Homo sapiens: one gene and its partners. The protein of the gene in region 5 interacts with the protein of the main gene of each other region in a biochemical or structural test. Each region holds a gene or a part of one and is shown on either strand. Other genes may lie near its edges. The genes, in order: ARHGAP21, MPP7, DLG3, RAPGEF6, HCN2, APBA1 and ARHGEF12.

The links.
Region 1: the proteins of HCN2 (region 5) and ARHGAP21 interact in a test that uses a peptide from one of them, tested with the Homo sapiens proteins (one large-scale study listed by IntAct).
Region 2: the proteins of HCN2 (region 5) and MPP7 interact in a test that uses a peptide from one of them, tested with the Homo sapiens proteins (one large-scale study listed by IntAct).
Region 3: the proteins of HCN2 (region 5) and DLG3 interact in a test that uses a peptide from one of them, tested with the Homo sapiens proteins (one large-scale study listed by IntAct).
Region 4: the proteins of HCN2 (region 5) and RAPGEF6 interact in a test that uses a peptide from one of them, tested with the Homo sapiens proteins (one large-scale study listed by IntAct).
Region 6: the proteins of HCN2 (region 5) and APBA1 interact in a test that uses a peptide from one of them, tested with the Homo sapiens proteins (one large-scale study listed by IntAct).
Region 7: the proteins of HCN2 (region 5) and ARHGEF12 interact in a test that uses a peptide from one of them, tested with the Homo sapiens proteins (one large-scale study listed by IntAct).

The regions. Positions count from the first base shown.
Region 1 is NC_000010.11:24,598,210-24,602,227, reverse strand, and holds part of ARHGAP21 (rho GTPase-activating protein 21), read left to right. Parts: intron 1-124; coding exon 125-250; intron 251-1,297; coding exon 1,298-1,582; intron 1,583-4,018. UniProt on the Homo sapiens protein: Functions as a GTPase-activating protein (GAP) for RHOA and CDC42. Downstream partner of ARF1 which may control Golgi apparatus structure and function. Also required for CTNNA1 recruitment to adherens junctions.
Region 2 is NC_000010.11:28,058,215-28,062,232, forward strand, and holds part of MPP7 (MAGUK p55 subfamily member 7), read right to left. Parts: intron 1,530-4,018; coding exon 1,436-1,529; exon of another isoform or gene 1,302-1,435; intron 390-1,301; coding exon 281-389; intron 1-280. UniProt on the Homo sapiens protein: Acts as an important adapter that promotes epithelial cell polarity and tight junction formation via its interaction with DLG1. Involved in the assembly of protein complexes at sites of cell-cell contact.
Region 3 is NC_000023.11:70,493,254-70,497,271, forward strand, and holds part of DLG3 (disks large homolog 3), read left to right. Parts: intron 1-122; coding exon of another isoform or gene 123-222; intron 223-2,154; coding exon 2,155-2,200; intron 2,201-3,926; coding exon of another isoform or gene 3,927-3,968; intron 3,969-4,018. UniProt on the Homo sapiens protein: Required for learning most likely through its role in synaptic plasticity following NMDA receptor signaling.
Region 4 is NC_000005.10:131,428,880-131,432,897, reverse strand, and holds part of RAPGEF6 (rap guanine nucleotide exchange factor 6), read left to right. Parts: intron 1-1,548; coding exon 1,549-2,039; intron 2,040-3,681; coding exon 3,682-3,996; intron 3,997-4,018. UniProt on the Homo sapiens protein: Guanine nucleotide exchange factor (GEF) for Rap1A, Rap2A and M-Ras GTPases. Does not interact with cAMP.
Region 5 is NC_000019.10:602,934-606,951, forward strand, and holds part of HCN2 (potassium/sodium hyperpolarization-activated cyclic nucleotide-gated channel 2), read left to right. Parts: intron 1-610; coding exon 611-1,034; intron 1,035-2,127; coding exon 2,128-2,289; intron 2,290-4,018. UniProt on the Homo sapiens protein: Hyperpolarization-activated ion channel that is permeable to sodium and potassium ions. Displays lower selectivity for K(+) over Na(+) ions. Contributes to the native pacemaker currents in heart (If) and in neurons (Ih).
Region 6 is NC_000009.12:69,665,354-69,669,371, reverse strand, and holds part of APBA1 (amyloid-beta A4 precursor protein-binding family A member 1), read left to right. Parts: intron 1-4,018. UniProt on the Homo sapiens protein: Putative function in synaptic vesicle exocytosis by binding to Munc18-1, an essential component of the synaptic vesicle exocytotic machinery. May modulate processing of the amyloid-beta precursor protein (APP) and hence formation of APP-beta.
Region 7 is NC_000011.10:120,471,967-120,475,984, forward strand, and holds part of ARHGEF12 (rho guanine nucleotide exchange factor 12), read left to right. Parts: intron 1-1,083; coding exon 1,084-1,161; intron 1,162-2,593; coding exon 2,594-2,669; intron 2,670-3,373; coding exon 3,374-3,541; intron 3,542-4,018. UniProt on the Homo sapiens protein: May play a role in the regulation of RhoA GTPase by guanine nucleotide-binding alpha-12 (GNA12) and alpha-13 (GNA13). Acts as guanine nucleotide exchange factor (GEF) for RhoA GTPase and may act as GTPase-activating protein (GAP) for GNA12 and GNA13.

The DNA of each region.
Region 1 (4,018 bases), on a different chromosome or scaffold from region 5:
GATTTTTCAAAAATAGCCCTTCACTTGAAACATTAAATAAAGTTTTCCACAAAGCAGTTTCCATGTGCAAATATTTATAAAGGAAAATGCTGACATTTTACTGTTTTCTTGGTCTTTTCTATAGATCGCAGACAGCCAAAAGTCATCAGAAGACTCTGGGTCCAGAAAAGATTCTTCCTCAGAGGTCTTCAGTGATGCTGCCAAGGAAGGGTGGCTTCATTTCCGACCCCTTGTCACCGATAAGGGCAAGGTAGTGTGTTTTCTAAGCCACCCTGAGTGTCAGAAATGCAGACCCTGACAAATAAACCATAAAGCCTGTATACATAAAATGGCATGATATCCAGATTAAAGAGTGAAAAAAAAAACCATTTATAAATAGATTTTTCTACATTAAAAAAAGTATTCCTTAAAAAAATTCTAATTATTGCATTAATTTGGTACTTTTTGTCCTGTGTATCAGCTACATGTAGAATATATTGTCTTACGTTTTGGCAATGTAAAAAGGAAATCTAAGTATTTAAAAAGGAACTCTGCTTTTCTTATTAGTTTATTAGCAATGGGTTATTCCGTTGTCCTTTAGGAAGTGGCAAATCAGTTTTAAATTTTTATGTCTCTTTTCTTAGTTTATTTTAAATTACCTTTATAACTTTGTTTCATTTTATTTTAAAAATATTAAGTTAAACAAATATAAAAATATCAATATATGCATCCAGTAGATTTCAACAGAAAAAGACTTTGCCATAAAAATTTTCTATAATATTTGGACAGCTTATATATAAGAACATTTTAATGCTGTCAGAAGAGTTTAAAAATTTTAAGAAAGCTCACTTTGGATGTGGATAGAGTTGCTTAGCCATATAAAGTTGATGAACTCTGTTAATTAGTTATGTATACAATTGTTGGAGAACTCCTGCAGTATCTGTCATTTGTGTGCTCTAAGACGTAAGTCTTTCACTCAACAGGTTTTTTGGACCGATTTTTAAATTTTCTATTCCGTTACTGTTTTTGATATGTTTTGCTACATTTATTTTATTTGATTAGCTTTGTTCATATTGCCTTCCCAACTAAAGTTGGGATTTCACAGTCCTTGACTTTGATATGAATACACTGCCTAACTCAGTTTATGCTCCACAATTTTTATCCTTCCTCTCCTCACAAATAATGTAGTGAGCTAAATCTGCCACCTGCTACACTAGTTATATGTAAATGCAGAGGAAGGGTGTTGCTTAATGTGCTTATCCTGTCACAAAGATTTAGCCAAATATTGACTATTAAAGAACTGTCGCATGTTTTCTAGCGAGTTGGTGGAAGTATTCGGCCATGGAAACAGATGTATGTTGTCCTTCGGGGTCATTCACTTTACCTGTACAAAGATAAAAGAGAGCAGACGACTCCGTCTGAGGAAGAGCAGCCCATCAGTGTTAATGCTTGCTTGATAGACATCTCTTACAGTGAGACCAAGAGGAAAAATGTGTTTCGACTCACCACGTCCGACTGTGAATGCCTGTTTCAGGCTGAAGACAGAGATGATATGCTAGCTTGGATCAAGACGATCCAGGAGAGCAGCAACCTAAACGAAGAGGTGGGTGTTCAAAGGAATGCTGGAGAAATCTGACCCTTTCACAACACTTTCTTACAAAGATCTAAGGAATATGATATATCATTTTTATAAAAAAATTATAATGTGCTATTTTCATGTAAAACAGTTGATGAAAAGGAAAACTCAAACATACCTGTTTTATATTATTTTCACACATTGGAAAATCACCATCACTGAACTAGAAAAATAGGTTATTTATATATGCTGTATACCTTCTCAGAAGCAATGAACTACATTCCTAGTCCTGGTTGTTTGTGACCAAGTTATTCCAGATCCATTTCCATCTTTCAAAGACAGGATTGTTGTAGGGCTTAAGTTACAGTAAAAATACTTACCAGTATAAATAACTATATAAATGCAGAGTGATACTGATGATTTTTGTTAAGAGAACTATACAGTCAAGAATATGGAATAGCCTACTGTCACACAATAGTTAGTTTCTAAGAAAACTTGCATTTTCAAAAATCATAAGTCAGCTTTTTTTTTTTTTTTTTTGAAACGAAGTCCTGCTCTGTTGCCCAGGCTGGAGTGCAGTGGCGCGATCTTGGCTCACTGCAAGCCCTGCCTCCCGGGTTCACACCATTCTCCTGCCTTAGCTTCCCCTGTAGCTGGGATGACAGGCAGCCGTCACCATGCCCGGCTAATTTTTTGTATTTTTAGTAGTGATGGGGTTTCACCGTGTTAGCCAGGATGGTCTCTATCTCCTGACCTTGTGATCTGCCCGCCTCGGCCTCCCAAAGTGCTGGCATTACAGGCGTGAGCCACCGCGCCCGGCCCAGCATTTCTTTTTCATGCAGAACAGTGTTTAGGGATTTGAGAATTTACAGCTTATGATCATCAAGGTATTTTCACAGTAGGAATTTCAATAGTAAAGATAGTTTTTAAAGTATGTATAACTATAAACTTTATCAAGCAAATCTAGCAATGATGAAGTAGCAGTTGCTCAAGTATTTTCTTATCATTAACACAGTTTTTTCTTCACTGTGTTCTCACTTTTCATGCCTATTTATTATAACCAAAAAAGGGGCACGAAGTTCTCTTTTAATACTCAGGAATGCCTACATTAAATGTAAACTTATGCAAATTATGTTCTAATTTAGTCATTTCCATTATATCCAATTCAAAGTATTAAAACGTTACACCATAGGAAAAGTGTGCTTTTTTTCCTTTGGTAGTTTACACTCTGCCTTGTTTGTGGTTAAAAATAACACCAGATCTTTATCAGTGCAACCTATGTTGTACAACTACCCGCTATACAGAGGGCATCAGACCTGAATTTTTGCAAAATAAACAGGGAGAATAAGAACTTAGATGTGGATTTCAGCTTTAAGTAATAGTTCAGAGGAGTTCTGTGTAACAGGCACCTACTATGTGTCAGGCATTCTCTCAGGCAGTAGACTGTCATTGTTAAAACTCCTTCAGATGACTTGTTCTGTGACACATAGTGGCTGTTTGGAGGATTGAATGAGATAATGCATGTGAAGAATGCCTGCCAAGTAATAAACATTTACTTAATGTGAGCTATTAGCATCACCATCTAATCTTAAGACACAGGTACACAAGTATTTTCCCCAGTTTTATAGATGAGAAAACAATAATTCACTGAGCACATACCATATGGCAGATACTATTTTAAACATACTACATGCATTAATCTCAGCAACCATATGAATGTGTCCTATTATCATCACCACCATTCTAAAAATAAGGAAACAGTGGCAAAGAGAGGCTAAATAATTTCCCTAAGGTCACACAGTGACTTAAGCATCAGGGGTAGGATTTAAATCCAGGCAGTCTTATTCTAGATCTTAATCATATGATCTCTCAGCTGATAAGTTGGAAGAGTCTATTTAAATTCAAGATAACTTACTCCCGTATTTAAAGACTGTATTCTTTGTAAACTGTATCATCATTCACTATCATCAAAATGAGGCAAGTTAAAAAAAATTGAGAACCCCAGTCAATATCAATGTATAATTGGAATGAATAGGAAAAAAAGGATCACTTTATGGTCAACTCTGGGTTTACCATATAGCATTTCATACAAGGTAACTCACAGAGGTTAAAAAAAAATCATGCAAATTTTGAGCTTTTCTCTTATCTTCTGATAATGTAACTGCCGCTTGTGATACTAGTTGATCCTTGGTTTCACTATCCTTAAAAATTAGTCAGTCACTAACAAATTCTGGCAGTCTGTTTTCATCTTTTATCCACCTATATTATTTGTTTTTCTTTTTGAAGAAAAATCACTTACACGTATATTTCTTAAATGCTGATCATTCTTTCTGGTATTAGAGAAAACACTGGCTGCTTCCTAGTCATTTATTTTAAATGGACGGATCAATTCAATAAGTATTGAACACATGTTACTTGCTGGTACTATCCTAGGTATCGCATGGATACAGAAAAGAAGCAAAA
Region 2 (4,018 bases), on a different chromosome or scaffold from region 5:
ATCTAAGAGTTGCTTTACTTGACAAAAACTGAATATAAATAAGAGTTACAAACACAGGTCTTGGAGCTTCCTCCACTTCTCTTTCTAATAATATTATGGGCTTTTCTTTTTCTCCACCAAAGATGTCTCCAATTATATTTAAATGCTTTTGCCATCTCAGAAAAGCCACATATATGCCAAAAGTGAGTTGACTTCATATTATTTCATACTGAAATGCTCACATGAGGTGCTGTAGATGACATGGGTCAGAAGGGTATTGAATAGCTCATTGTTTACTTACATGAGGCTGAACATCCAACAAACAAACTTTGTTTTTAGCAAGGACAGACCGAACTGAGTCTATACTTGTGCCGTAGTAGTTGTTTTTATATTCTCCATATTCAATAAACCTGTAAAAAATTAAATGCATTGGAATCATTTGTGAATTTAAAACAATTATAGGTGGCAAGATAAAATTCATAGGTAAAAGACGTTTCTGCTGAACACGTAATTTTTTTAAACTGTGTTTAATAATATAAACAGAGCCAAGTATTTCAAAATGTCAGTTTTTAAAAAATCTTTTATTATACATTTTCAAATCAGTAACACTTGCTTAAATTACACTTAAGCAGAAAAAAAGTACTTTAGTCTAGTAGGGCTCTAATGTTTTCCATCACCCCCTTTTTCTTCAGAACTAATGCAATGCAATAAAATGGTGAATAAGCCAAACAATAGAAACTACTGGAATTTCATTGCACGCTACGGAGTAACCCAGCCCAGCTTCAGAACTAGAGGCGCTGGGTGGTGGCTAATGGAGCCAGGGCAGTCGATCATGTGCTATAAAAACACAATCACTGCGCCAAACACGAAAAAAGCATTTCGATGTTTTAATAAAATCCCACAATCCTGCATTAAAACACATATTGCTTCTGATAGCCTAAAATATTTGTGCCTCAGCAGATGGAAAACCTGGGCAGGGGGCACTGGGGTGGGCTTGGAGCTAGCTAGAGAAGACGGTACCAGCAAGTTAATTATCATCATTTCAATTTTTTGAAGAGCCAATGAGAGAATGAGATGCAGGTGTGTGAAGCAGACGCTGGACCTAGTGATATACTACATAGTTGTTGGTTTTTGAAGTAAAATTCTATCCAAATTACATGTTAAGATTCAATTAGTGGGCTGGAAGGAGGTCAGAATAAGACACTTGCAACCTTCCCTCATTCTGCAAAGCAGTGTCTACACATTTTATAGAAATGAAGCAAATCCAGGTTACTAAAAAATTAGAGGTGAAGATTAACAATAATTACCAACCAAATTATTACCTTTTCATCTGTTTCAAATATTATTATGATAATTAAAATACACTTCAAATGGAGAACTCTCAGTTGTCTAAAACGGGACAGGCATGTGCTTATAAAAAACAGTCACATGAAAATTCTCAAAAATGTCCACATACTTGTTATTTTGTACATCTGTCTCAAACAAATGCTTGGAAATGAAAATGTATTCAACACCATCACTCTCCTGGCTTCTTCTTGCTCTGGTGGTATCTATGATTTAATGAAAAGGAGTTTAGAAAAGCCCACATCAGCCACCTTAAGGAAAATACTAAAAAAGAAATCAAGGGTATTTAATTAGTTTTTTCAACAGGATTTAAAAATGTATTTAAAAAGCAAATTAGCTAATAAAATACAGTAAGCTGTTATAAATCCAGATTTTCCACTGTTATTAAAATTATATTGATTTGAAGATGGGTTAAAAAGTTAATTGCATTGTATGTCTCTGCTATTATTTGCTATTTTGAAGGCTCTCTAACCTGATACAAGAGTGCTATTTAAACTCCTGAGGAAAAAAACCTTTTTTTTTTTTTTGCAAATAATATGCTTATTATCTTTATTGATCTTCATTCATTAAAGCAAATCTATTAACCACTAAGTTGTTAGATAAACTCTGAAACTGTTTGACTCTCTTCTTCTCATGGGACATAGTGGGTATGCCATCAAAGTTTTGTTTTACCAGCCAAGTGAAGCCAAATACTTCTGTGTGCTACTCATTCCTCCTTTGCAAAGTCATAAATAGCATCATCTTAGAATACTATTGAACTTCTAACCTTTCAGTAATCTTGCCTAATTATTTATTAACGAACTAAAATGGAGCAGAAAATATAGGATTCATTAAAACGACAACATGAACAAAGCCCAAGGCACTCCAGTGCTGACATGGCAAATGTAAACCCACTACAGGCCATCCTTCCTGCAGATCCCAACTAAAAACTATGGATGCCAAGAAACTACCCGAACACTTTGAAAATAAGTAAAGCAGGTAGACTGTAGAGGGGAGTCAAACTGCACGGGGAGGAGTTTAACTCTATTTTCCTCTTAGCTTTGCCCCAAGGGTGGGAATCCTTCGCAGAGCAGCATGGTAGAATCTGCAGCAAAATGCCAAGAGAAGCCCTAACGTTCTGGTGCAAAGAACTTGGGACGGGGGGTAGAAAAAGTCCTTGTGGGCTGTAAAGTGTGGAGGAAATCCAGGAGAGAAGAAAGCTGGAGAAGAAAATACTTCACTTCTGTGTATGAGTCAACAATAGTCTAAGAATCCTCTCTGTGCTACACACATGTAGTTCAAACTCAAACCAGCACGGCAAAGGCCTTATGAACTGAGAGTGGAATGTACAGGTTTCAGCCTAACCCCTGAAAAAGAGTATCGCAAAACATATCTAAGCCAATGAAGAAAAGGCTTAAAGAACTGAGCTGAGATCTGAACCATGCACACAAGTCTTAGACTAATCCTTGCATCCTAACAGACCCAAATCAATATAACAAAGGTGAGATAAAAGAAGCTGGCAGCTAAAATAAAAACATCAACATTCTCCCGAATATGGTAACAAGACCTAGTGTTAATACAACATTATATTCACAATGTCCAAAATGCAATCTGAAATTATTCAACATGAAAGAACCAAAAACAAAAAAAAACAAAACAAAACAAAAAAAACACCAATTTTCAAGGGGAAAGATAACAGATAGCAACCCTGAATGACCTGGAAGTTAGATTAGACATAAGTCTTTCAAACAGGTACCATAACTAAGCTTGAAAAGGTAAGAGAAAATATACTTGAATTGAACAAAAATATAAATTCTTAGCAGAAGAACAGAAACTATAAAGAAAAAAACAAATAGAAATTGTAGAAATGAAAAATAAAAATATCCAACAGAAACAAATCACTAGATGGGCACAATAACAGAATGACAGAAAGAAAAGCCAGTGAACTTGAAGACAGAACAATAAAATTATATAATCTAAACAACAACAACAACAACAAGATTTAAAAAATATAGATAGAACTCCAGGGACCTATGAGAAAACACATATGTCATAGGAGTACTAGAAGGAGAGGAAAAAAGAGATTGGGGCAGAAAAATATGTTTGAAGAAATAAAGGCCCCAAACTTCTATAATTTGGTGAAATACATAAACTTACCAATTTCAGCAGCTCAGCAAATCCCAAACAGGATACACTCAGAAGGGAAAAATTATGCCTAGACACATTATAATCAAACTATTAAAAGCCAAAGATAAATAAAAAATCTCAAAGCAGCTAGGAAAAAACACTGAACACATAAGTGAATAATGATTTAAACTGTCACAGATTTATTATAAATCATAAAAATAAGAAATCAATGAAATAATATCTTTAAAGCACTAAAGGAAAATACTTAATCAAAATGTGTTTCAAGAATAAAGGCAAAATAAAGACCTCCTCAGATGAAGAGAAACTAACAGAATTCACAGCCGACTGTTCAAAAAAAATATTCAAGGAAGTTTTTTAGGCTGAAGATAAATGATAAAAAGGAAACTTTTATATTCAGGAATGAGGAAAGAACAAATAATTGTGTAAATGTAAACGTCTACTTTTTTCCTGTTAAGTTCATTAAGATATATATGACTATTTTAAAGAAAAGTTATAATATTGTCTGATAGTTTTCAATGTATGCAAATGTAATACATTTGACACCTAAAACAAAAAGATTAGGCTGGGG
Region 3 (4,018 bases), on a different chromosome or scaffold from region 5:
AGATGGTCTTTTATTTAGCTCACCGTTGTCTCCATTTTAGTTTTTCTTGCATGCTTTAAAATCCATTGTTCTGTTTTTTTTTTTCTTCTGTCCTTCCCCTCCATCTTCATGTTCTTTCACAGTCGATCAAAACGAAACGTAAAAAGAGTTTCCGCCTCTCTCGAAAGTTTCCATTTTACAAGAGCAAAGAAAACATGGCCCAGGAGAGCAGCATACAGGAACGTAAGTAGCAGCAGAGTCCAGAGAGCAGGCCATCTGCAGCCCCATCCTCTCATCCTCAGTTGCCCTTCCCTCGAGAGAAGCCTGGGCAGGGCCACGTGTGGCCTCGTGCCTGCCTGTGTGCGTGTGCACCTGCTTATCTACAGAGTCAGGGCAGAAACTGGTCTGCCTAAGGAGATGTTGGGTTTTATTTGTCCTGCTCCTCAGTTAGAATGAATGTTGGAGGCACTGAGGTGGGACTGGTCCCAGGGTCAGCCTCCAGGAAGTGCCTGGCACTAGCAGTGGAAGTGCCAGACAGAGCTCTGCTGTGGTGGTGAGGAACGGTTTTTTAGCTAGACTGTCAGGGTCAGGAAAATGGTTTTTCAAGAGAACAAGGTCTAGGGACTCAGTGTTGCTCTCCTGGTTTCTTCCTCTTGTGTTTTCTTTCCCTTAACTTCACTCATGTATGTCAAGAGAAGAGCCTTTTCTTCCCAGGATCCCTGGAGTTGGGGCTACTTCTGGAATCCCATGCACGTGCATAAGCATACAGGATATCCACACAACTCTCAGCAGACTCGCTGTCATCCTAGAGTGCCTACAGAGCCAGTTTTCCCAGGAGAATCCTTCCTGCTTAAATGAGTTGACATGGAAGGAGTGTTGCTCCACATTGTTCAAATAAAGATCTATTGAGAAACACAAAGTTGGTTCGGTAGGAAGAGCAGTCACACTGAGCTAAATTCAACGGAAGAAGAAATTTAATCCTGATAAATCTTCTTGCTCTACCGTGTGCCTCAGCAATTAACTGCTCCAACCTTAACCTTAAACACCAGGTCTGGCTTGAAAAATGTCTTCTCACTTGTCTCATCATGAACAGTAAACATCTCTCATTTACCAGTGACTCCTCTGTCTTACATGGAGGGATCTTGGGGTCTTGGTCTATTGGGGCTGGCAGGAGACTGACTGGTTCTGATAGGAAATGTCCTTCTGTCAGGCCAGCTTGGTCCACAGTCATGGTATGTGTAAGTCATTGCTATCTGGGGTGGTACCTGGTGGACAGAAGGGTGCCCTCATCTAGATGGCAGCCACGGCTCATCATCCTGGAGTAGTTCAATGAGAAGCCATAGACGGGGTGGCTCTGCTCATGAGCAGTTAGGAGACAGTCTGAGTCAGAGGCCTGAGGTGATGTCACCATAGTTTCATCAGATGAGTCCCAGAGTCCCTCCATGCCAAGCCCAGCCTGGGGAGGTGTTCATTGCTCAGTGGTCCCGCCTGGTGGGCGAGGGGGTATCTACTGGATGACAGAGTTGAAGGTGCCTAGTGCTTCTCCAGAAGCTGAGCTCATCCCCCAAGATCTGTCCAGCTCAGGGCAGCTTTGGAGGCCACACTCTACACCATGCGAAACTTTTCCTGAAGGGTTTGAACAGAGTGAATCAGTATTGGGCAAAGGCTTCTTGAGGTGATGGCAATTCTATCTGCCTACCTGGCACACGCGGACATTTGCTCTTTCACGCACTGCAGAGGGAAATGGTGATTTCAGGGGCAAACAGAGACCTGGGCTCCACAACCAAAATTTAGTCAAAGCAGGTGCTCTAAGCCTTGGAGTGTCACCTGTCCTGTCCCATTGGCCTACAGCTGTAGACACCTCAGAAAGCTAGTCTACTCCAAGGCCCTCTGGCAATGAATTGGGCAGCATGAAGTCTTGATGTCTTATCTGCCCTGGGATGTTCTTTCTGTGGCAAAGTTCCTGGCCTCACTATAGTGCTAGGTCTTCATGGTGTTTCATAATTCTGTCACTAGTGCTCACCTACCTCTGTATTCTTCCTCCCCCCTTGTCTTTTTCTCTATTTTTTCTCTTCTCCCCAAATCTCTCCCTCTCTTCCATTCCCTCCCATCCCTTCCCCTTCCCCCCTCTTCTCCCCGTCGTCCTCTCTCCGCCCTTGCTGTCTGTGAAATCAGGACTTCCCGGGGTTAAGTGACGATTATTATGGAGCAAAGAACCTGAGTAAGTCCAACTTACACACCGTTCACTGTACTTGTGGCATGAATGGAGATAGTGGGGGTGGGGCTATTGGGGACATGGGTGAGGGTGAAGGGTGAGGGGAGGGCAGTGTTTGTGAGCACTCTGACATCACAGCAGGAAGAAGTGCATGTGGCTCCATATGTTACATGTTTGCTATGGATCCCTAGTACCCAAATAAGTCCATATCATTCATGCCTTTGTTTACCTTTTGCTACTCAAAGTGGGAGGGCGTGAGCATGGCATCCCACCTTAGAAGTGAAGTAAGCTTGAAATGTTTCTCCAAGGTAACCACTCAGCTAATCTCTAGCCTATTGTCGAAGGGAGGGGTGCCTGCTGGTTGGATTCTTCTCCCAGTGATACCACGCTAAAGAATTGGGTGTAGGAATTGCAGCTGTTAACAGTCCTCTAACTAGGGGCAAGGGTACTGTGACCCCTTTTTCCCAACCTGCATCTGAGATGTCCCAGCAGATCCCGGGCCTCAGCAAACAGCCACTGTTTGGCTTCCCACAGAGCACCTGTAAGGGGTTGAGCTGGTCTGCTAGGGGCCTCAGCATCATTTATGGACCATATATAGTTAGTGCTTTATCTCAGGAAAACTCCAACCTCATTTTCCTTTCTGGAAAAGAATCCTGGAGTGGAAAATGAAAAAGACCTAGATGATGAGGCCTTAGTGGCCATCCTGCTGCGTGCAAGGGTGCACAGACACCAAATGGGTTCTATCAGCATATACTCTCCTTCAATAAATAATACAGACCAAAGGCAAAGGAGTTGCCCATGGGGATTGTTCAGGAACTAGCCATGTGTGGCAACTCAGCCAGTCCTTTCTGGGTGGGGGGGCCACAGCATATCATGGTCTGGAACAGTGTGGTCTTGGCTGAAATGAGCAGCATCTCTCTCCATAGTTTGGTGTGTCCATGTCTCATCTTCATTCGCGTGTCATCTTGGATGGGCGGGCTTTGTTTGTGCCTCCTACGAGCGCTGCTCCTCCGCCTGAGCTTTCTTTTCCCTCACCACTAAGAGATGGGCAGATCCCAGCTGTGTGAGACAGGAGGGCTGCCTTGTCCTCAAGGTGTTTTTGTTGGTTTTGTTGTCTGTGTTTTGACATATGTGTCTGGTGGTGGATGGAGATGCTTCCCCTCTCACCACTGAAGCCAGGCTCTCCTGCTTTGGAGTGGTGGCAGGAAGGCTGGGGAGCCCACCGAATGGTCAGAGCAGCGCTCCCTGGTGTCTGCTTAACCCATCCAGCGTTTGGCCTCTTAGTTGTGGAGTGCCACATGGTTCTGTACTTCAGGGGCTCTGTTGGGCGGGGGACACCCATGAGCAGACTGGTCCCTGGACTTCTCTTTGCTCCTGTCACTGTCTTTTCTTTCCTGTTGTTAGCCTTGGGAGATGCATTTTGAAATACGATTTGGAAACCATCCAGGTCAATTTGATTCAGATGAAGAGGATGCTGCTGAAGGAAGTATGGCTTGTAGTACATAGGGAGGGACTTGGCAGACCAAGAGGGCTCTGGGGACAAGTACGAGAGGGCCAGGGGCTCAGGATTGGAGCTGTGCCTCCCAGTTGGTAGCCTGGATGTGGCAGGCCTCTGGTGGCCTGACTCAGTTGGCAGCTCAGTGTCTCGCTCCTGGAGCATTTGAGTTTTGTGCTGCATGTGACCTCTCAGTGGTGTGTTCTGAATTGGAGTCTCTTTCTTGTTGGCTTGCAGAGGGAGTGACATCCAACACCAGTGACAGCGAAAGCAGTTCCAGTAAGTGTGTGTCATTCCTTCCATGTCGTGTAGCTCCACTGTGTATCCCA
Region 4 (4,018 bases), on a different chromosome or scaffold from region 5:
ATAAATATTGTGAAATCTGGTCTACTTTAATATGAAAAATTTAAGATAAATTATTACCACATTTATAAAGATTTCTAAACTAGGATCTCTACACCAGAGGTCAGCAAATGTTTTCTATAAAAGTTACATAGTAAACATTTTAGACTTCACAGGCCATAAGGCCTCTGTCACAACTACTCTGCTATTACACCAGAATAGCCATAGACAACACATAAACAAATGGCATGACTGTGTCCCAGTAAAACTTTTTTTTTTTTTTAAGGCGGAGTCTCGCTCTGTGAGACAGAGTGTCACTCTTGTTGCCCAGGCTGGAGTGCACTGGCGCGATCTCGGCTCACTGCAAGCTCCGCCTCCTGGGTTCACGCTGTTCTCCTGCCTCAGCCTCCCGAGTAGCTGGGACTACAGGCGCCCACCACCACGCCCGGCTAATTTTTTGTATTTTTAGTAGAGACAGGGTTTCACCATGTTAGCCAGGATGGTCTCGATCTCCTGACCTCGTGATCCGCCCGCCTCGGCCTCCCAAAGTGCTGGGATTACAGGCGTGAGCCACCACGCCCAGCCAAAACTTTATTTACAAAAACGAGCAAAGAGACCACCAGATTTGGCCCTGGGCTGTAGTTTGCTACCCCCTGCACTATACTGTAAATGAGGGGTTTACAAACTTTTTTTTGTGAAGGGCTGGGTAGTAAATATTTTCGCCTCTGCAATCTACATATAGTCTCTGTCACAAATTCTTCTGGTTTGGTTTTGTTTTCTTTTCTTTTTTAACCTTTTAAAAGGTTAAAAAACAGAACTATTCTTTGCTCCAGACCATACAAAAATAGGCTGTTGGCTAAATTTGGCCCATGAGCTTTAGTTTGGGGACCCCTGCTATAAATTATTCATTTCATGGGTAATTGGGGAAGTTGCTGTTTACTTGGCACTGTACTGGGCTAACCTCAGAGGTACGTTGAAAAATAAAACATGATTCTTCAAGTTGGGAACTCTTAATTCTGTATGCATGGACGCAGTAGTCTAATATTGTGATGACCAAAAATGAATATGTATACTTAACCTTATTCATTTCAACTCTCATCTTTACATTTTCATTTAAAATCAGTTCAAGAAAAATACTTGCCAGGCATACCTCTGGTCCATCCCAGCTGCTGGGGAGGCTGAGGCGGGAGGATCACTTGAGCCCAGGAGTTAAAAGCTGCAGTGCATCATGATCGTGCCTGTAAATAACCACTGCACTCTGGTCTGGGCAACAGAGTGACACCCTGTCTCGAAAAAAAAAAAAATATCTAACATTTTAAAATTTAAAAAGAAAAATTCTAAGGAAATTTTGCTAAGCATTAGAGTTTCTTTACTGTGTCTTCTGAGTGTTAACTAAATACTTACAAGGAATATAGTGATGAATGATGATAATATTGTTTTCCTCACGATGTTATTTGGCATGAACACTTGTGGTACGTGCTCTGTAGTTTCTCACAGGCAATAATAACTTGAAACAGAGAGAAGATAGTTTTTCTGGCAAGCCTTCTAATTGTACGTTATCTCCAATTTTAGGTGGACACTCTTGAAGCCATCTCTAATCAAGTGTTTAGCTGTCTCATCGTCTGTGAGCAATGAAGAGATTTCTCAAGAGCATATCATTATAGAAGCAGCTGACAGTGGTCGTGGAAGTTGGACTTCGTGTTCAAGCAGCTCCCATGACAACTTCCAAAGCCTTCCAAACCCAAAAAGCTGGGATTTTTTGAACTCTTACAGACATACCCATTTGGATGACCCCATTGCTGAAGTTGAACCCACTGACTCTGAGCCCTATTCCTGTTCTAAAAGCTGCTCTAGAACTTGTGGGCAGTGTAAAGGAAGCCTAGAGAGAAAGAGTTGGACCTCCTCCAGTTCTCTGTCTGACACGTATGAACCAAACTATGGGACAGTTAAACAGAGAGTATTGGAGAGCACCCCAGCTGAGTCATCTGAAGGCTTGGACCCCAAGGATGCCACTGACCCAGTTTATAAAACTGTCACTTCAAGTACAGAAAAGGGCTTGATTGGTAAGTTGTGTTTTTGTTGTCTGTGGCATTTAGAGATTAAGTAGTCAAAAAATGGCATTGGGATATCTTGGCCCTGGATTTTATCGTCGCAAAAATTCATTCTCTAACAACCTTTCTTTCCTTCACAAACAAACAAGTTATTTCCCAAAAATTCATGGTTTCTCAAAGACTTTGGAGCAGCTATTCAACCCCATTAAAATGAAAAGTCTGATGTGAAGGTATTTAATTAGAGGGACAAGTTTGTTTGTCTTTTGTTTTTAAGTTCTTTTTGGTTTTATTGAGGAATATCATCGCATTAGTGTGCAATAGTAGTAAAGGGATTATTCTCTTTATCACCTCATAAATTGTTTGGACCACAATTGGTATGCATACGTGGTAGAAACATTGAATCTGCTATTGATTTTAGGTCGTAACAGTGAGAGAAAATGCAATCAGGAAGTCCAGAACATTTTTCAGTATACTCTCTTGGTGTACATCATGAGTGTGCCAACTCCTGTTTGTGAATTCCATTCCAAGCTTTCTTAGTAAACTTTTTTTTTTAGTATTTGGCCATCAAATACTTTTTAAAAATTTCTTTCCTAAACTATATAAATACGTGGATATAAAACTGCTTTTCTACTTATATGGAATGACTCTACTTTGAATTAATATCATAATCAACTGTTAAATTTATGCAACAGTCATGGTGTCGCATTTAACTACTAAAAATGTGAAGGTGAAATGTGCTGATTTTATAGTTACTTGTCAAATTGCATTATAGGTTGGGTTTTTAGCTCATTCATTTTTTTCCAACTTTTTTTTTTTTTTTTGAGATGGACTCTTGCTGTATTGCCCAGGCTGGAGTGCAGTGGCATGACCTCGGCTCACTGCAACCTTCGCCTGCCAGGTTCAAGCAATTCTCCTCTCTCAGCCTCCCAAGTAGCTGGGATTACAGGTGCCTGCCACCATGCCCAGCTAATTTTTTTATTTTTAGTAGAGATGGGGCTTCATGTTGGCCAGGCTGGTCTCAAACTTCTCACCTCAGGTGATCCACCCACTTCGGCCTCCAAAGTGCTGGGATTACAGGCGTGAACCACCGCACCTGGCCAGAAGTAAAGTTCTTGAAGGAATTAGTTCCTCCGTACCAGCAAAGTTAAAGTTTATATGCTAGGACTGAGAACTAATCTGCCCAGGAGTGCCAGAAAACATTGGTTCATGTCTCAGAGAGAAGGTGAAACAGCCCTTAAACAGATGGCCCAAATGTCATTTCTATGTAAAGTCTCCCAGTTTACAGAGAATCGGTGTGTAGGGTGAACTTTTAAATGTTTCTGATATCTTTAGGGCTGGTGTGACTTCAGGAGTTGTCATGTACTTCTGTGATATGGGGGCTGAATTGCAGAAGGAAGCTTGTCATCAGTGTCATCTCCTTCAACTCTCTCGTTCTATTTAATGTTTACAGGACTTAATATAGTTGTTTATGTATTTTAAAAAGAGGTTTGTTTATTAAACTTTTAAAAAATGTTTTTGATCTGCCATCATTCAAGTTTATTCATTTTGTCTATTTTTAAGTTGTATTTTGTCATTGTAATAAGTTTGTGGGGTGGTTTCTTTTTTTTTCCATTTCTTTTTCATTAACATTTTCATTGCTTATTTTTCATGCCAGTGTACTGTGTCACCTCACCCAAGAAGGACGATAGGTATAGGGAGCCACCTCCCACTCCTCCAGGATATTTGGGGATTTCTTTAGCGGACCTAAAGGAAGGACCCCACACACACCTAAAACCTCCAGATTATAGTGTGGCAGTGCAGAGGTCAAAGATGATGCATAACAGCCTCTCTAGACTGCCACCAGCTTCTCTCAGTAGCAACCTCGTGGCCTGTGTTCCATCGAAGATTGTAACTCAGCCTCAGAGGCATAATTTGCAGCCATTCCATCCTAAACTAGGAGATGTGACTGATGCAGATAGCGAAGCAGATGGTATGTTGACAAGCTCTCTTAA
Region 5 (4,018 bases):
TGTCCTGCAGGCGCCTGGGGGGAAGGCACCGGCCTGAGCTGTGGGCACCCTCGTCCCCCAGGGAGGAATGCCCGGGGCTGGTCCTGCAGGCGCCTGGGGGGAAGGCACCGGCCTGAGGTGTGGGCACCCTCGCCCCCCAGGGAGGAATGCCCGGGGCTGGTCCCATAGGTGCCTGGGGGAAGGCACCAGCTTGAGGTGTGGGTGCCCCTCGTCCCACAGGGAAGAGGGCCCGGGGCTGGTCCCATAGGTGCCTGGGGGAATGCACCAGCCTGAGCTGTGGGCACCCTCGCCCCCCAGGGAGGAATGCCCGGGGCTGGTCCCATAGGTGCCTGGGGGGAAGGCACCAGCCTGAGGTGTGGGCACCCTCGCCCCCCAGGGAGGAATGCCCGGGGCTGGTCCCATAGGTGCCTGGGGGAAGGCACCAGCCTGAGGTGTGGGTGCCCCTCGTCCCACAGGGAAGAGGGCCCGGGGCTGGTCCCGCAGGCTCCTCGGAGGAGGCACTGGCTCGAGGTGTGGGCGCCCCTCGTCCCCCAAGGAAGAGTGCCCGGGGCTGGTCCCGCAGGTGCCCCGGGGAGGCACCGGCCTGAGGTGTGGGCACCCTCGCCCCCAGGTTCTACTGGGACTTCACCATGCTGCTGTTCATGGTGGGAAACCTCATCATCATCCCAGTGGGCATCACCTTCTTCAAGGATGAGACCACTGCCCCGTGGATCGTGTTCAACGTGGTCTCGGACACCTTCTTCCTCATGGACCTGGTGTTGAACTTCCGCACCGGCATTGTGATCGAGGACAACACGGAGATCATCCTGGACCCCGAGAAGATCAAGAAGAAGTATCTGCGCACGTGGTTCGTGGTGGACTTCGTGTCCTCCATCCCCGTGGACTACATCTTCCTTATCGTGGAGAAGGGCATTGACTCCGAGGTCTACAAGACGGCACGCGCCCTGCGCATCGTGCGCTTCACCAAGATCCTCAGCCTCCTGCGGCTGCTGCGCCTCTCACGCCTGATCCGCTACATCCATCAGTGGGAGGAGGTGAGGTGGGGCGGGGGCGGGGCCAAGGCAGCAGGGGCGGGGCTATAATGGTGCATGGGCGGGGCCAAGGCAGCAGGGGCGGGGCTATAATGGTGCATGGGTGGGGCCAAGGCAGCAGGGGTGGGGCTATGAGAGATCTGGGTGGGGTCAAGGCCCCAGGGGTGGGGCTATGGGAGATCTGGGTGGGGTCAAGGCCCCAGGGATGGGGCTATGAGAGATCTGAGTGGGGTCAAGGCCCCAGGGATGGGGCTATGAGAGATCTGGGTGGGGTCAAGGCCCCAGGGGTGGGGCTATGGGAGATCTGGGTGGGGTCAAGGCCCCAGGGATGGGGCTATGAGAGATCTGGGTGGGGTCAAGGCCCCAGGGGTGGGGCTATGAGGGTGCAGGGGTGGAGCTACAATGGTGCAGTGGTAGAGCCAAGACAGCAGGGGTGGGGCTATCAGGTTGCTGAGCAGGGTCGAGGCAGCAGGGGCAGGGCTATGATGCTGCTGGGGTGGAGTCAAGCAGCAGGGGTGGGGCCGTGATATCTGGGTGGGGTCAAGGAGCAGGGGCAGGGCTGTGAGGGTGCTGGGCGGGGTCAAGGCATCAGGGGCGGGGCTATGAGGGTTGTGCTGAGCGGGGTCAGACATCCGAGTGGAGATATGAGGGTTGTGCTGGGCGGGGTCAGGCAGCAAGGGCGGGACTATGAGGGTTGTGCTGGGCGGGGTCAGGCAGCAGGGGCGGGGCAATGCGGGTTTTGCTGGGGCAGGGCCAGACATCAGGGGTGGGGATATGAGGGTTGTGCTGGGGCGGTGTCAGACATCAGGGGTGGGGAGCTGTGGATTTGGGGGGTGTCCTAGGGCGGGGGCTGTGGATTTGGGGGGGTCCTGCAGTGAAGGCTGTAGAGGTGGGCGGGGTCCTGGGGTGGGGGCTGTGGGTTTGGAGGGCGGGGGTCCCGGGGCAGGGCTGCAGGGTGGGGCGGGGGTCCTGTGCGGGGCCTTGGATTTGGGGGAGGGGGCCAGGAGCTCCCGCAGTGGGGGCGCACGGGGCTGGGGCTCTGAAGGTGGGGGCCGGGGGTCAGCGGGTAGGGTGGGCTCACGGCGCCTTCCTGCAGATCTTCCACATGACCTATGACCTGGCCAGCGCGGTGATGAGGATCTGCAATCTCATCAGCATGATGCTGCTGCTCTGCCACTGGGACGGCTGCCTGCAGTTCCTGGTGCCTATGCTGCAGGACTTCCCGCGCAACTGCTGGGTGTCCATCAATGGCATGGTGGTGAGCGCCGCGGGCCCTGACGGAGGGGGAGACGCAGGCTCCCATACAGAGGGGGGACCCAGGCCCCCTTATCCCGCTTACAGAGGGTTGAACCCAAGCCTTTCAGAGGTGGGGACCCAGGCGCCCCCTTATGGAGGGGAGGACTCGGGCCCTTACAGAGGTGGGGACCCAGGCGCCCCCTTATGGAGGGGAGGACTCGGGCCCTTTCAGAGGCGGGGACCCAGGCGCCCCCTTATGGAGGGGAGGACTCGGGCCCTTACAGAGGTGGGGACCCAGGCGCCCCCTTATGGAGGGGAGGACTCGGGCCCTTTCAGAGGTGGGGACCCAGGCGCCCCCTTATGGAGGGGAGGACTCGGGCCCTTTCAGAGGTGGGGACCCAGGCGCCCCCTTATGGAGGGGAGGACTCGGGCCCTTACAGAGGTGGGGACCCAGGCGCCCCCTTATGGAGGGGAGGACTCGGGCCCTTACAGAGGTGGGGACCCAGGCGCCCCCTTATGGAGGGGAGGACTCGGGCCCTTACAGAGGTGGGGACCCAGGCGCCCCCTTATGGAGGGAAGGACTCGGGCCCTTACAGAGGCGGGGACCCAGGCCGCCTTACAGAGGGAGAGACACAGGCCCTTCAGGGGTGGGGACAAGACCCCCTTACACGGGAGGACTCAGGCCTCTTTACAGAGGGGGACCCAGGACTGCAGCCCCGGCACTGGCCCCTTAATGTCCCTGGGGGTCTGAAACAGCCACTTGGAACCTTTCAGGCCTGGGATCATCCGTGGAGAGAAGCTGAGTGTGGTTATGATGAGTCCTGTCACCCAGACATCTGCTTAGCGCGTTTTCCAATGGATTTCCCTTTTAATTAACCCACATTAATTATTATTATTTTATTTACTTATTTTTTTTTGAGACTGAGTTTCACTCTGTCGCCCAGGCTGGAGTGCAGTGGCACGATCTCGGCTTACCACAAACCCCACCTCCCAGGGTTCAAGGGATTCTCTCGCCTCAGCCTCCCGAGTAGCTGGGACTACAGGCGCCCGCCACCACACCTGGATAATTTTCGTACTTTTAGTAGAGACGGGGTCTCGCCATGTTGGTCAGGCTGGTCTCGAACTCCTGACCTCAGGTGATCCGCCTGCCTCGGCCTCCCAAAGTGTTGGGATTACAGGCGTGAGCCACCGCGCCCGGCCTGGTTGGATCCCTTGAGCCCAGAAGTTGAGGCTGCAGTGAGCCATGATTGCACCACTGCACTCCAGCCTGGGTCACAGAGCAAGACCTGATCTCTAACAACTAAAGAAAAATTTACAACATGGCCCTGAATTGGGAAAGTGGTATCACCATGCCAAAGAAATAATAAATGGGCCAGGCATGGCTGCTCATGCCTGTAATCCCAGCACTTTGGGAGGCTGAGGCAGGCGGATCACCTGAGGTCAGGAGTTTGAGACCAGCCTGACCAACATGCTGAAACCCCGTCTCTACTAAAAATAAAAAATTAGCCAGGCGTGGTGGCGCGCACCTGTAATTCCAGCTACTGTAGAGGCTGAGGCAGGAGAATCGCTTGAACCCGGGAGCAGAGGTTGCAGCGAGCTGAGATCACACCATTGCACTCCAGCCTGGGCAACAGAGCCAGACTTTGTCTCAAAAAAAATAAATAAAAATAAGTAAAAGCAAAAGGAAGAGGCCGGGCGCGGTGGCTCACGCCTGTAATCCCAGCACTTTGGGAGGCCGAGGTGGGGCTGAT
Region 6 (4,018 bases), on a different chromosome or scaffold from region 5:
GTTTTGTTTTGTTGTTATTGTGTTTGTTTGTTTCGGAAGACTTAGGGGTAAGAGATATTTGAAAATTGACCTCTGGGGCCAAAAGGAATTAACTGTAGTACCTTGGGGAGATAGGACTTTTATCCTAGAAAGAAGAAGTAATTGTTGCTAAAATTGAGAGAATTTCAAGCCGTAAAATCTGAAGTTAACTCTCTGGGTTACAATAATTAATTTGCAAACATTTGTTAATTGCCTCCCGCATCTCAGATCCACTGTACCTTTGGATAGGGGACAGGGAATGTTGAGAAGGGTTGGAGGTTCAAAGAATGCTAAGTCTTAGATCCTGGCCAGAGGTGGATCATGATCTAGAAGGAGAAAAGAGGAAATATGTTACTAACTGTAAAAATAGTGAAAAATGATTAAGTGCTGAAAAAGCAGTATTCCTGCAGAGCTGTGGGAGTTCACAGGGTACAAAGTGACTTCTGATGGAAGAATTAGGGAAGGTTACATGGGATATAGCATTTGAGCTGTGATTAAGGTGGCATTTGGGTTGGCAGAGAAGGAAGGGCATGCTTGGGGGAGGAACAGTGTAGCACAGGCCTGGCAGTGGAAGGTGTATGCCTACACAGGAAACAAAAAAATGGTGTGCTTTGGCTGAAGCGCTAGGAATGCCAAGAGATGTAATGAGGGATAAAGCAAGAAAGAGAGGTTTGTTCAAGGTGGTGGAGCAACTTGTACGCCAAGCTAAGGAGTGTGGATTTTGTTCAGTAAGGACTGGGGAACTATAGAAGATTTGTGAGGAGAAAGATTGACAGTATCAGAACTGTGCTTTGGGGCAATACTTTTGTAGTATTATGTTGGATGGAATGACATGGGAAAAGGCTGGCAGGAGGGAGACCAGATAGACTCTATTGTCAAAGTAGGGGAAAGATGGAAAGAGGCAGTGGGAGGCAAGAAGGGAACACACCTAAGAGGTGGTGTGCGGGAATTATCTGAGGAGCTTGAACAGTCACTGGAAAGTGAGGAAGGGAAAAGGGAGGCCAAAAGATCATTGTCAGGCTTAGCTGAGAGAGCAGTTGGGTCATTTTCAGAAAGAAGATATAACAGAGGATAAGGAAGAGGAGAGAAGTTTCTTTTTGAGCATGACAGGCTTGTCCAAGTTAAGGGACTAGAATACAGAGGGAGGTTAGAGCTACCAGGAGATTTGTAGGTCATCTGCTTAGGAGCGATTTTCATATCCCAGGAATCACTGATAAAGAAAATGAAGAAAGAAGAAGCAAAAGTAAGGATAGGATCCTTGAGGGATGTCTGTATGTTGGAGGGGAAAGAGAAAGAAGAGGACAGGAACCACGTTAAACAAGGGGCAATTGGAGAAAAATGATGGAAGTGAAGTGGTACAGTGTCATGGAAGCTGGAAGGGGTGAGGAGAGCCCCTGTCACTCACACAGCACACCCCATGGGTGACGGTGCAACCAAGGCAAAGCCATTGGATTTGACTCTTGGATTTCCTTGATTGTCTTTGTGGTAGGTGGAAGTGGCAGCCAGGGGCAAGGGTTGAAGGGAGGCGTGGGGGAAGGGAAATGGAAAGCAGTGAAAACAGACTTCATTTTCAATAAGTTGGGAGATAAAAGAGAAGGAGAGAGAGTATGATATATCACAACAATGGTGTAGTAGAGGGAAAGTGGTATTTTTAGTATAGGAAGACTTGAGCCTGCTTTATAAGCTGAGGAGAACAATCCATTGAGGGAAAAAGAGATTGAAAATGTAAGGGAGAGGCTCAATTGAGGGAATTAAGTCTTCAAGAAGATGGGAGGATACTAGATGAAAGCAAAGGAAGGATTCTTTTGAGACAGAAGCATAGGAATTTTGAGGTGGAAAGAAAGGAATTTGGCCACAGTCTTTTAAGTGAGGTCAAAGAGAGGTGGGCAGGTTGAAGCCAGGAGTAGAATGACAAAGACTTGTGGGCATTGTGGAAACAGAGCAGTGAGTCAATTAGGAGTGAATAAAAGATCATTACCCAACCATGAGGACCTCATGTGTTTGAAAAGCAGGAATTTGTAGTGAAACCAATTAACGCTATATAATTGGAGTTTGACAACTACTTAAGTAATTTTTGTATAGTGAGCATTTAATCTCACTAAATACAGTGGTTCTTCATTCCCTTAAATGCAGTAAAAAGAGGAGAATGTTTACCTTTAAAATTATCCAAATAAAAGACTCCACTTGTATTTCCTGTAAATATTCTCTCTCAGAGATCTGAGCTAAATTTTAAGAAGTTTATAGTAAAACAATGGGGAAAAATGTAAGTGTTTTTTTAAAGGATGAGCTTTTTCTATCTGTAATGGTAGAATATGGTTTTACAGTGACGTACATGTAAAGTCAGTTTTCAAAAGAAAAATCAAATATAGCACCTCGCCCAATACCATACCCATCATATGCATTCAATATACATTTGTCACATGAATACATGAATAAACTTTTTTTAAGTAAGCTAGCAACAGTATCTAAAATTTTAAATTTCAGGATTTCATTCTTACACAATGGACATCGAATGAGTTGCCTTTTATGGCCTGTGCAAGTTTATGATAGCATTAAAACTATTTATTCATACCTGATATATACATTGAAGCTTTATTTTTAAAAACCCCACATTTTTCACAAAATGATTGTGAACCCTTTAGATCCTTGAGTTATGGGATTATGTCATGATTCCAGGTGAGTTTATGGAACTTCAACTGTAATGAGTGGTGATTTTGAGGTTTTAATGATGAAATTTATTCATTCCTTCAACATACACTCATTGAACACTTTCTCTGGGCCAGAAACTATTCTAGGTGCAAGGAATATGGGGTGGGGGGAGGCATGTCCTTAATATCACAGAACTTTTAGTGGAAGGAGATTAAAAATAAATAAATAAGTAATTACATAATATGCCAGGTGGTAAGTGCTATGACGAAGAATAAAAGAGAGAGAGCAATGGACTGATGATAGTGGGTGGGTGGGGGGTGACATTAGTTTATATAGTATGGTCAGGGAAGACCTTAAGCAGAAAGAGCTGAAAGATGTGAAGTAGTGAGCCCTGCAGATATTTGGGGGAAGGGTCTTCTAGGCAGAGAGGATATCAAAAATGAAAAGGCTGGATAAGAACATGTTTGGCATCCTCAAGGGACAGCAGGGAAACCTTATTGGTTTCCTTGGTTTACCTGGAGCAGTCACTTAGGGAATTCACAATAAAATGCTTTGCCTTTCATTTTCAATTGTTTGCCCATAAGGCTGTATTACCATCTACTGTATTTGGGCTGACCTATGAATCAGTACTGGGTTTATATAAAGATGAATATCCTCAATCAAATGTATTTAAGTTAGAAAACAATCATGCCTGTAATCCCAGCACTTTGGGAGGCTGAGGCAGGCAGATCACTTGAGGTCAGGAGTTCGAGAGCAGCCTGGCCAACATGGCGAAATGCTGTCTCTACTAAAAATACAAGAATTAGCCGGGCATGGTGGCGCATGCTTGTAGTCCCAGCTATTTGGGAGGCTGAGGCAGGAGAATTGCTTGAACCTGGGAGGCAGAGGTTGCAGTGAGCCGAGATCACATCAGAAAACAAAGCGTGATTCTGTCTGGGTAGTGATGAAATACTAGTCAGCTGGAAGTAGTTCTGCTCCTTGGAACTTACATCTCTTCTGTGTCCTGAATCTTCTTTAAATATTGCTCTCTTTTCTTCTTCCTTGTTTCATGTTCCATTCTCAAGTATAAGATCCTTGAGGCTAGAACTTTGTTTTGTTCATCTGGGTATACTCTATAACACAGACTGACTCTCTGCATTAGTAAGGGTTTATCAAATACTTACGGAGAGGAATTGATGAGAAATTTCCAAAGATTTAAGTAACTCAGGTGTAAAGAATGAGGGTAAAGCTCGTTTACCTTGATTTCTGCAGATAGGTAGCTGTTTTTCAAACAGGACACAGAATTGCCATAGGATGCTAAAGCAGTTTATGCATGCAGACCCTGAGATGAGGACTTGAGTTCAGAATAGTT
Region 7 (4,018 bases), on a different chromosome or scaffold from region 5:
GAAGAGTTGAAGTAACTTAAATGCCCATCAGTAAGGCGTAATGAAATAAATTATAGTTTATTCAGAGAGTTTTACATCCTGTAGTCATTTATAAAAAAATGAAATAACTCTCTATATGTGCTAATGTGGAACAGTCCCCAAGATATAAGTCATACACCACACACACACACACGTGGGGGAATACGTATATGAATGTATTCTACCATTTCAATGAGGAATACATATAGGAATACCAAAGGAATGCATATATGAATATATTATGCTACCATATCTTGTTTTAAAAAAGGACATATACACACAACATGCACAAAGACAAGCATACTTATATATACATATATAAATAAATACATATCTGTTTGCATAGAATTTTTCTCAAAGGCTACCCAAGAAATGGATATTAGTGATTGCTTCTTTAGGGAAAATTGAGGGGGGTGGGGCAATAGGACAAGGTTAGAGGGAGACTTTTTATTTTTTGCCTTATATAGCCATCTGAATTTTGTACTGTGTGCATGATTTACATATTCAGAAAATAAATATAAGCTAATAAGAGACCAATGACTTTGAAAAGAAGATTGAGAAAGAAAAGCCAAAGAGGCAGGAGGAAAACTAGGAGAGTATATTATCACCAAAGCCACGGGAAGAGAGTGAGTTTTCAGTCCTGTCTAGCATTGCAAAGAGCTCAGTAAAATGGAGATTTTTTTTTTTTGAGATGGAGTCTTGCTGTGTCGCCCAGGCTGGAGTGCAGTGGCGTGATCTCGGCTCACTGCAAGCTCCGCCTCCCAGGTTTGCACCATTCCCCTGCCTCAGCCTCCCAAGTAGCTGGGACCACAGGCGCCCGCCACCATGCCCGGCTAATTTTTTTTTATTTTTAGTAGAGACGGGGTTTCACTGTGTTAGCCAGGATGGTCTTGATCTCCTAACCTCGTGATCCACCTGCCTCAGCCTCCCAAAGTGCTGAGATTACAGGTGTGAGCCACCACGCCTGGCCAAAATGGAGATTTTAAATGCCAAGTTTGATTCAGAAATAGAGAGGTCATTAATGACCAAAGCACTAACCTTGGTTCCACCCTGCCTAATTTTCAGCGCCTAGAAGATTATCAGCGTCGCCTTGATACCTCCAGCCTGAAGTTGTCAGAGTACCCAAATGTTGAAGAGCTCAGGGTGAGAGATGGTCTAATCATAATTTAAAAAATAAAATAAAATTTGCTAAAGACCTGGCAGGTAATTAACATCTCAGTGGGAATATACGTCACCTGAAGGAGTTCTTGTATCGTAGATTATCTGTATTTATGATTTTTTTTGCTGCCTTTTAAATGCTTGATCTGTATGAAATTAGTTTTTCATTAGAGGAATATCTTGCATAAAACTGTAATATTACATGACAGCAATTGGCAGGAGACTAAGGGACACTAATTATTATAAAATTTAATTTTATTGTGTTCTGTAGTTTGTTTCAGACAGGGTCTTGCTCTGTTGCCCAGGCTGGAATGCAGTGGTGCAGTCTTGGCTCACTGAAGCCTTGGCCTCCTGGACTCAGGCAGTCCACCCACCTCAGCCTCCCTAGCAGCTAGGACTATAGGTATATGCCACCATACCCAGCTAATTCTGTGTTTTGTAAAGACAAGGTCTCGCTGTGTTGTCAGGTTGGTCCAGATTTCCTGGGCTCAAGTGCTCCTTTCTCAGCCTCCCACAGTGCAGGGATTACAGGCATGAGCCACTATGCCCAGCCTGTGTTCTGTAGTTTAAATAAGGGTAGGACTGTTTGGTAACTTTCCAGATCATTTAATAACACAAGATAGCATACTATTTTCTCATGAGGCTCTTCAGAAGCATAAAAGTTGGAACCATTACAGGAACGATAGTAAAATGTTTACTAATTGCCACTTCTAGTATGTGGGCTTATGTGTTAACTTTTTCGGATTTTAAGTGTTTTTGTACCATTTCACTAGGTGGTGGTTTTGGCAGATTTATTTGGTGGCTGTTAAAATAGACTTTTATGTCATATATTAATACTTCGTCAACAAGCACGTAAATGTGCTTATTCCCCTTAGCTTCCAAAGAATGAGAGTTTTCTAGAGCTGCTAATACTAAAAGATGATTCTCTTACTAATAAGTTGTTAATATTTAGACCAAGTCTGAGTAGTACCTGGACTTTTCATGAGTACTATTTCTTAGAACTTTCTTTGAAATTAGAGCCTTGGAACTCAGAAGCCACTTTCTTATAGACAAGCATATGTACCATGCTCATCCAGTTATTCATAGGAAAATTAAAGGATACGTTGAGAATCTAGTGACTGAATGTTTGTAACTTGATCTTCATAATCTGTTATCATCTGTTTAGAGTGAGGTTTGAAGATAGTACTCCTGAATGTTCTTCTGCAAGATACCTTTTCCTTTTTAGAAAATTGTATGCAGATTACTTTAATATGGCTTTTGTGCCATTTTCAAGAACTGACAAATAGCAATAATGATAGTTGAATGTAAATGGTGTATTTTATATTAAGAATTTCTTTAAAAGAGACTGTATTATATAGATAATCATGTTACTGAGTGCTTGGAAATTATTTGTGCATGATTTTCTTTATTTTGCCAGAATTTGGATTTAACAAAAAGGAAGATGATTCATGAAGGGCCATTGGTTTGGAAGGTGAATAGAGATAAAACTATTGGTAGGTCTGATATTGTCTTTTAGTTTTGGGGAGAGTGGCAAAAGGGAAGGAATAGGAAAGTTTCCTATGACAAAGGGAAGAGGAGAGAACCATTCTCTCAGCAGTTTGCAGTGCTACCTCGTGTTATTTGTACATTTGTAGATCTGCTTGTGTTATTTCATTATATGTAAGATGTGTTAAATATTCATTTAGGAATGTAGTGGAGAACTGATTTAGTCCTATTTCCATCATTCTTATAGTCTAGTGAGTCTTTGTATGCTTTGTAAGCTTTCTTTAGACCAGTACATCTTAAACTGTCTGTGATGAGGAACCGTTTTTGTTTTTTCAGAAACAAGGTCTTTCTATGTTGCCCAGGCTGGAGCACAGTGGCTAGTCACAGATGCAGTCATGGTGCACTGCTGCCTCGAACTCCTGGGCTTAAGGGATCCTCCTGCCTTAGCCTCCCTAGTAGCCGGGACTATAGGCGCACAGCACCACACCCAGCTTGTTGTTTTTTATTTCCTATTGGTCACAGACTGACACTTCAGTGAAATAAAATAAAAATGAATTACTGAAAATGAAATTTTAAAAGATAATATACAAGTCAATTTTTAAAATTTTGTAGCTTTAACAGAAATAGAATTCCTCTGTTGAATCATTATAAAGTTAATCAAACGCGTCTCCATTTCTGTACTTACCATTTTTTTCTGCACTTTTATTTCTAGATTTATACACGTTGCTGCTGGAAGACATTCTTGTATTGTTACAAAAGCAGGATGATAGACTGGTTTTAAGGTGTCATAGTAAGATTCTGGCATCTACAGCTGATAGCAAACACACGTTTAGCCCTGTCATTAAGTTGAGTACAGTGTTGGTTCGACAAGTGGCAACAGGCAAGTATGTCCACTGAAGGATACTAATTTCCAGATTCATTGTGAAGTTGCATAAGATACTCGGTGCTGTCTCAATAACACAAGTGGCATAGAGTCTTGCTATTTTTATATTCTTAAGCAAATTACATGAAATTTACTGCTTAGAAAGAGACCTAAGAGTTTATACCCCAAAGTTATTAGGGTGTCTCGATTCTGTGAACAGTTTTCTGCATTTGAAAATTTTTATGCTATTACTTTGGTTCTTTATGTTCAAATCATTGATAGATCCCAATGAAAAGCCTTTCATTTAGGGTGGTATGTTTTTTGATTTGGTGAGAAAAAAATCAAAAACCAAAGAGACGGATGTAGTGTTGATTAAAAATCAAATTTGACTGGCAAGTTATATTTTAACTCTATTAACAACGGGGTCCCTTTTAAAACTTGTTAGTTTCATGGTGGCAAAATAAATTTGTGACCTCTTTTCTCCACTACTCACTG